Linked DNA regions of Homo sapiens: region 2 is linked to region 1. Evidence: fine-mapped expression QTL. A gene starts in region 1. The other region holds a variant in brackets. All regions are shown on one strand. Distances are between the middles of the regions.

What was found.
Region 2: its variant is fine-mapped to the expression of AK2 in whole blood (INTERVAL, PIP above 0.99).

The regions. Positions count from the first base shown.
Region 1 is chr1:33,035,212-33,039,606 of GRCh38, forward strand. AK2 (adenylate kinase 2) reads right to left here and starts at 1,672. Exons shown (of 6, transcript NM_001625.4): 1 at 1,525-1,672. The coding sequence starts at 1,617. RefSeq lists an enhancer at 1,491-1,650.
Region 2 is chr1:33,008,286-33,012,680 of GRCh38, forward strand. AK2 (adenylate kinase 2) reads right to left here. Exons shown (of 6, transcript NM_001625.4): 6 at 1-4,395. Among named protein-coding and RNA genes, the nearest start is that of AK2, 26 kb to the right of the region's middle. The variant G/A (reference allele first, on the strand shown) is at 2,517.

The DNA.
Region 1 (4,395 bases):
ACAGGTAAGCTCCAAAGAAGAATCATCTCAGTCTGTGGAGAGAAAAGAAAGCTGTATTTTCTGACTTAGTGCCCAGGTCACAGGAATGAATGGAGTGTTCCAGAACTTCTTTCTTTATCACCCACATTAATCTGTGACATTCATCCACTTCCACTAACCCCATCAAGGGCCAAGTAATGTGCTAGGTGCCACAAGGGGTACCAAGAATGAGTAAGATGGTCTGTTTGCCAAGATTTTTAAAACTTGGCAAGTGCTAGGAAGAGAAAAGCGGGCACAGGGCAGTCCTCAGATTCCCTTTCATTTGGGAGCTCAGACTTCCCTCTTTGAAGCCTAACAACAGGCAAGAGCCAGAGGCTTAGGGCCCCAGGTGCAATGCCAGACCCCAAGCAAGAAGGGGACATCAATAATCCAACCTGCGGGCTTCCAAATCCGAAATGAGATCATCGATCCCAACCCTAATCTATGGCCCCATTATGTCCCAGATCTAGAAGGGGCCCAGATCCCAAGTGAGGCCCCTGTTGCCTGCTAGGGCAGATGGTAACTTCAGACTCTAACTCCATGGTTCCTGAGGTCTCAGGCTCATGAAACTCATTTCACTAATTTGGGAAAGCCACCTGACCTTTCTGGGCCTGTTTTTTAACCTGTTGATTGATAAAGTTAAAATTTCAAGTTCCCTATAAACAACAACAAAATAAAAAAAGGAAAAAATAAATAAAAACCAAAGGGAAGGAAGATACAAACAAACAAAAATAATAAAAACAAAATAAAAAAAAATTCAAGTTCCTTTTCATCTAAAATCATTTGCGTCATCCCAAGCTGCTTAGCCTTCAGTAGCCTCAGGTCCTAACTCCAAGCCAGGTCCCATGAGCACTCCCAACCCTTATTGTGGACACTACTCAAAGGTTGCGACTCATGGGTCTCCAGGCTATAAACCAGTTCTACACATTCACCCCCAACTTTCAAACAGGGAGAGCCTTAGGTTTCCTCCCATCTCAATTCAACTGGCTCACACAGCACATGTCACCTCTCACTCTGCCCCACGTGTTGGAGATGCTTCTCCTCCCCTCCCCCTAAGTCATAAATCATTATCAAAATCTCCCGACCTCCAGTGCCTGGAATGTAACCCTGATTCTGGACAATTCACCTCCAACTCGCAGGTAACCTGGGCCATAAAGCTAATTGCCTCCATTCAGCCTGTAATCTAGATGCCTCGGCCCAGGGCTCACTCTACCCCTCAAACCTTTCCAGTCTCTAGACCCTTAGTGGAATTAATCAGCCCTCACATTCCCTAACCCAACACTTCAACACTGAATCCCTCGGGCACTCCAATCCTAACTCAGACTGCCCCGACCTCCAATTTGGACCCTCTCCGAAATGCCCCACCAGAACCGAGACCCCGGCCAGCGTTCCCCGCAGGCCTTAGTCCCCGGCCCGCTCCGGGCAGGTCCAGGGCTTCTAGATCTCCGGCCGCCTTGACCTTGGAGTTCAGCAGGCTCCGCCGCCAAGCCCAGTCCTGCCGCTCACCTGGGTCCCTTTACCGGCCCCGGGAGGCCCCAGCAGCACGGCCCGGATGCCTTTAGGATACTCGGGTTCTGCCGCTGGCACGCTGGGAGCCATGTCCGCCGAAGTCTCTCACTGCCACCAGTTCGCACGCCTCACAGGTCCAGTGCTTCCCAGGTCAACGCACGCACGCCACGCACGTCCCACTCGCCGCTCACACTGGCCCATAGCCGCGTCCGTCAGCCCGTTCCGCCCGCCCCTGAGCACGACGGACTCTTCACCTTACCAACTGCACGGCGATACTGAGGAACTTTGCTTTTGATTGGACAGAATTGGTGCGGGATAAGGAAGGGGCGGGCCAGCATGTACTAAGGGTGGCGGGTGTGCGGAGTGGGCGGGAAAACGCGAAGGAGGACAGGAGGTCAGGCCGGAAGGTATACTTCGGCATTTGACAGTTGACGACACCAGCAACAACATTGAAATCCTATTAAATTGCGCGTGGGAGTTTAAATGGGTAAAATCACTCTTAGAAGACAAATTAGTAATATGTTTCAAATACCCTTTGGTCCAGCAATTCCACTTCCACGAATTCAATGGATAAAATCAAGGATATGAGTAAAGATTCGTGTAACAAAGTTGTTAATTGCAACACTTAGCCCAAAAGCCCGAGAAAAACCATAAAATAAAGGCAATACTCCAAATGTCCAACAATAAGAGATTGGTTAAATAAATTGCAACCAATTTGTATCCTGGAATACCCCTGTTGTATAAGATAATTTAATCATGCGGGAAAATGTTAGCAAAGCGAGATACAAAATTGCAGTTACAACAAAATCCGAATTTTGGCCGGACGCGGTGGCTCACGCCTGTAATCCCCACACTTTGGGAGACCATGGCGAGCGGATTACCTGAGGTCAGAAGTTCGAGACCAGCCTGACCAACATGATGAAACCCCATCTCTACTGAAAATACAAAATTAGCTGGGAGTGGTGGCATATGCCTGTAATCCCAGCTACTTGGGAGGCTGAGGCAGGAGAACTGCTTGAACCCAGGAGGCGGAGGTTACAGTGAGCCAAGATTGAGCCATTACACTCCAGCCTGGGCAACAAGAGTGAAACTCCGTCCCACTCCCCCCCCAAAAAATCCCGATTTTGTTTATTACAAGTGTAGACCGCTGTGTAGTGTGATTAGAGGAGCACCTCTCCTTTGTATATTTTAATAGATTTTTTAAAGTTCTATGGTAAATTCTTAATAAGTTTAAAAACTTAAGTTTAAAACAAGTTTTACCTTTATATTAAGAAAAACGTTAACCTTTTAAAGTCAGGAAAAGATAGTTTTTCTCAAAAGAGATGACCCTCTTGGATAGGGAAATAATTTCTACAGCTTTTTGGTGTGTGAAAGTTTCATCCAGCTCCAAGGGCCTCTTTGGACCTTTAGTTAAGAGTGTGTAATGAAACGATTATGTTTCCCCACAGGCTCCTAACAACTCATTTTCTACATCTTGATGATGAATTTGCTATCCCTTCAGCTGTGGTCTCTTCTTTTTTTTTTTTTTTTTGAGACGTGGTCTCGCTCTGTTGCCCAGGCTGGAGTGCAGTGGCGCGATCTCGGCTCACTGCAAGCTCCACCTCCTGGGTTCACGCCATTCTCCTGCCTCAGCCTCCTGCGTAGCTGGGACTATAGGTGCCCACCACCACGCCTGGCTAATTTTTTTTATACTTTTAGTAGACACGGGATTTCACCGTGTTAGTCAGGATGGTCTTGATCTCCTGACCTCGTGATCCGCGCGCCTGGGCCTCCCAAAGTGCTGGGATTACAGGCGTGAGCCACTGTGCCCAGCCCAGCTGTGGTCTCTTCCTTACCACACAGAAGTCAACATTCATTTCTCATCGCCACGCTGGACTTTTACAGTGTACCTGCTTAATCTTGTTGGATACTCCCAATGACATTGAAGGAAGAAAGGATTGTTATGTCTATTATTCAGAATGGAAGCTGAGGCCTGAAGATACGTAGTGACCAAAGTCACACAGTAGCAGACTCACAATTAAGACTGAGGATGAGCCAGGTCCAGTGACTCACGCCTGTAATCCCAGCACTTTGAGAGCCTGAGGGGGGGGCAGATCACCTGAGGTCAGGAGTTCGAGACCAGCCTGGCCAACATGGCGAAACCCCGTCTCTACTAAAATTACAAAAAAATTAGCCCAGTGTGGTGGCGCATGCCTGTAATCCCAGCTATTAGGGAGGCTGAGGCAGGAGTATCGCTTGAACCCGGGAGGTGGAGGTTGCAGTGAGCTGAGATGGCACCACTACACTCCAGGCTGGGTGACAGAGCAAGACTCTGAAAACAAAAACAAAAACAACTGAGGATGACAAGCAGGTGCCCTAGAGATTACAGGGCTTATGGGCAGAGGGATGGGAAAACAAGCTGCAGGAAGCCTCTCTGTGGCCAAAATTCACTTCAGTCCAATAAGACCAGAGTTTATTGAAATTTTCTATGCACAGGGACCAGGCAAGGGGAGTAGGAGCAGCCTTCCCTTTCTACCATCAATCCCTATAGTGATTGTGACAAGACTTAGGGCTCCCAGGAGGGAAAGTAAGGAAGACTATCCATAAAGACACAAAGTGTAAGATTTATTCAATACACTTTGAAGTGTAATGAATCACAAGTTAAGTCTTTTTTTTTTCTTTTTTGAGAAGGAGCCGCACTCTGTCACCCAGGCTGGAGTGCAGTGGTGCAATCTCTGCTCACTGCAACCTCCGCCTCCTGGGTTCAAGAGATTCTCCTGCCTCAGCCTCGTGAATAGCTGGGATTACAGGCGCCCCTACCACCCCCGGCTAACTTTTGTATTTTCAGTAGAGATGGGGTTTCACCATGTTGGCCAGGCTGGTCTCAAA
Region 2 (4,395 bases), 27 kb before region 1:
AAGGTCGCATGGTGAAGTCGCTGTTGAAATCTGTCTTCTGACTCGTTGCTCTGTCTTCATCTGAGGAAAGACTTGTGAGGCTTCTGAGGAGGCTGCTCTCCATCCTGCTGTGTTCTGTCAGTGACACTTTGTGCACACAGGAGATCCTAAGACACATACCCTAGGCCCTCAGAGCCGGCAGTGACTTCTTCAAAATCAGTTCCGGCAGCGCTGAGTGTCCATGGAAAAGAGCTCTTATTCAGAGCAGCCCTTCCTGTGTGCAGAGCTACGCAAGTAATTAAATCACTTCAGCAACAAGATCAAGGGGACGGATAAGTGTTAGAGACTGTGTTTCAGTCCTGACTGCCTCTTATGCATGACCTCAGGAATGCCACTTCACCTCTCTGAGTCTGGTTTCCTCACCTATAAAAGTGAAGGACAGTTCTGACTCCACAGGGTGCTGTGTGAGGGTTACGTGAAGTCGAGGGTTACATGAAGCCTTTGCATAATACCTGGCACAACGTCAGTCTTCCGGGAGTGGTAGGACTAGTCTGCATTCTTGGTTTGCAGATTAGATGAGGAAACCCAGGCCCAAAGAAGCAAACAAACAATAGCTCACCCAGTCTTCTCTGTTTATTCTTCTCAACTACACCATGCTGCTTTGCAGGTTGGTTTGACAAACATTTCCCCACAATTAGATGCATGATGACCAAGGGAGGAAAGAAAATTTTCACAGGGTATTTAAAAAGCTCAGGGAACAAACAGATCAGTGCAAATCAGTAAGGCTAACACCTGAAAATGACTCTGCACAGGTGAGGAAGTGGAGCAGAAGAGGGAGGGGCTGGTTCAGGGAACAGGATTTAATATGTCAGTGAAGACCCTGCCTCTCTCTGTAACAAGATGCCTAAAGAAGAATAGTGGTGCTTCCAGCCCAGCTCCCTCTTGTTTTGGGAACAACAGTCATTTCTCAGAAACCTCACTTGCAAAGGCAGCCCTTCCAAAAACATGAGAGCTTTAGTTTGGAGAAATTATTTAAGCTCACTTTTGCTGGAGAGGAAATGAATTTAAACTAGGACACACAGAGAAGCAACAAAGAGTGTTAAAGAAGCAACTGAAAAGGTAGTCAAAGATCTGGCTTAAGGATTAGAAGCACTGGCTTTCTAGACTATGGACAAGTGTCCATTCAACAGTTATCCAGCCTGGCAGGAAGCAGATATCTTTCTGTGTATATCTGGATCCAACTAACATTTATCCAATGTCTGTTGCATGCCAGGTACTGAGCAAAAACCTTCTTCCTATAAATTTCATTTAATGCCATTAAGGCCAAGAAGGTGGCATAACCAACTTCCTTTTTCAGCTGAGGAAACAGGAGCACAGTGAATAACTAACTGGCTGGGATTTGTCCTAGGTCCCCTGAACTCCAAGCACAGTGCTATCTCCACTAGACCAAGCTGCCTTGTCTCTGGGCTCAAGAGAAGCCTGCATAGGAGCTGAAGGTCAAGAGGTTGCAGGCTTATCTCATATGCACATACTTGGACCTCCCTACCACACAGCTGCCAGCGACAAGAAAGGGCTTCTTTTCCTTCCAGCCAGGTCCAGAATTCAATGTCATTTTTCTAGCTTAGATTATCTAAAAAAAATGCCACAACAGGGGATACAAATTTTAACATATTTTATTGATTTAGGGGCCAAACAAGGCAGCATTTGGTCAGTTAAGAAAGGCACCTCATTGAAAATAATACATCACAGTGCTGTTGAGTGATCCCAGTCACAGGATTTGAGAATGGAAAGGACAATCTTTGGATGACATAGCTTAGGACACTTGCTCATTTATTTAAAAGAGTCCCTTCACACAGTGCAGATAAAAGAAGGCAAGAGCATAGGATTGTGGCATGTGCTGGGTAGCTGTGAGAGGTTACTCATGAAAGTAGGTAGCCTAGTAAATTAGTGGTAAGTCAGGGGAAGGGAATCAGCCTCCCTTTCCATTTCATTCCCTTCCCCCTCCCCTTGATTCCAGTTTGCTTGATTTGTTGAGCCACCATCCCTATGAATACACCTTACATCTCTTTCAAATGTGGAGATGGTTTTTTGATCTTACAGTGTGTGGAACCGGAGTCAGTAATCAAAGCTCCCTGTTCCAAGCTATAGACAGACAGGACAACAATTTGATTTCCTGTACTCTTGGTCTGGAACCCATGGGGTTCTGAGATAAAAGCTGAGGTCTTAGAGCACTGGCTTTAAAAAATATTTTCACCAGTCCAGAGTAAATGAAAACCCGATTCCTTAGAAATAATATTGTGTCTATTTCTACCCCCACCCTCCAAGCATGGTGTTTTTTAAAAAATTAATTTTTCCCTTACACTTTAAAAACTCTCACCTATGTATAAAAGAAACTGCCACACTACAATAACACTGCTGTTGTTCCAAGTATTCCTCTGAGCCCCTCACCAGCCCTCCCTCACCATCCTCACCCTGACCACCCTTCCCCTCTGCCCAGCACCTAAGAGCAGGGATCACGCCGCGGGGTGATGAGCAGT[G/A]TTGCAGTCTCGCCTGGCCTTCTGATACTAGGCTGAAATAGAGAGGAAACAAGAGAGAACAAAATGGGTTTTTAAAAACCAAGTACATATCAGAGGAGGCTGGCATGTAAGCCCCAGCAACCAAATGCATTAAACACTGGACATTTCTGTGACAGGTAAAAGCAGAACCTGCTGAGGCTGAGGAACTCTGGAATTAAATGAAGCAAAAACAGAATCCTAACCATACTGAGAAGGGTATATGCATTCCCTATGAATCTTCCAGTTCTTATGGGCAGCCCAAATATTACTTGTACATGTTGTATGCACACGTGAATCTATGTGGACGGATGACAAATATTTGGGCAAGGATCATGCACATAAAATTAGCAAACATTCAAGAACCTCAACTTTGAGGCCAAGTGCTTACAATTGTCCCTAGTTAAAGGGGAGCTGATTCTAAGATTCATGATGCCACTGTCACCCAGAGAAGGATCCCAGACCAGGCACACATAGCTGACAGTTTTTGTTTCACTCCTCTTCCTTGCCCATTCCCAGAAGTCATGTGCTTCCCAGAAACACACAAAGCCAGACTGAGTTTCCATTAAGAGTGGGTGGAGTTGGTTTAGAGCCAGGAAAACAAGGCAGGACAGAGGCAGCAGACACTCACTTGGACCAGGCAAAGAGGGAAGCAAGGTGGCCAGGTACTCATGCCCAGTTGCCATGTGGACAGCAGATAAGACCTCTGGTAGTCTCACAGATGGCAGGAGAGCTCAGGTCAGGAGGCTGGGCACTTTAGAGTCCACTGAATCGAGTCAGCAGCAGATTATGCTGAGGCTGGCGATATTATTTACTGGATCTGCCACTGACTTTCTAATGGTTTTTCCAGAGGCTGCCGTTTTTGTGGTCCTTCATAGCAGTCTGTTACTTCATCTGTTTGCCACAAATCAAACCAGAGACCAAAAGACAGCAGGGACCTTAGAAAATGCTCAATAGTTGGGAAGCTAAGGTTATGAATAAAAGCTGGTAACTGTCACAGGTGGTCTTATTTCTGGGTGATCTTTTCTTGGGGAAGTCCATGGCTATAGCCATCATAAAATTAGGGGTGAAGGGTTGGATCTAGAAAGGAGAGGGTTTGGGCTTAAAAAGAACATATCTGATTTCAGTTTTATGTCCTGGAGAGAGACTGGGTTTGAATAAATACTGATCAAAATGAATCCAAGAATAGATCACACACTGTTTTGTTCACACTTGGAAACACAGGCAAACATTAAAAATAAAAGCAAATAAACCTACCCTGGTCTCTTTTTGGGGAAGTAGATTTGACTGCTCTCAGATGATCAGCCTGGATGTTCAGAAGACAATCTGAATTCAAAAGGACCTTTCACCTGGTTTAATTCTCTGGCAACAATTCAGTTTTCAAACCCAATTCCCAAATAATTGCTATTTTCAGCATCATGATGCAGATCACAAAAATATTCCAATTTGGCCTGGCTCTTTTTATGACGATATCCTCTCCCAGTAATTTCTGTAACCTGCAAAGTAAGTGCCTTTTTCCTTCCACCTAGGGGGAAAAAATTAATGATCCCTGTTCACACACTGACTCACGTGGGTTTTCATCATGGGTTAGAAAACAAAATGGAATTCTCTGTCCATAATGTGCCATCAGGAACTGTGACCCTGCCTGACTTCACATGATCCTGGACTTCTAATCAGCTGCTGGAAATGGAAGAAATACTATGAGGTTCTGGAATTGCGGTCCCTGGAAGATTACCTGGGTTAGTTCATTTTGGTCAAAAAATAAAATCAAAAGTATGGTTAAAGAAGTAAACAGCTGGGCTGGGTGTAGTGGCTCACGTCTGTGATCCTGGCACTTCAGGAGGCCAAGGTGGGTGGATTGCTT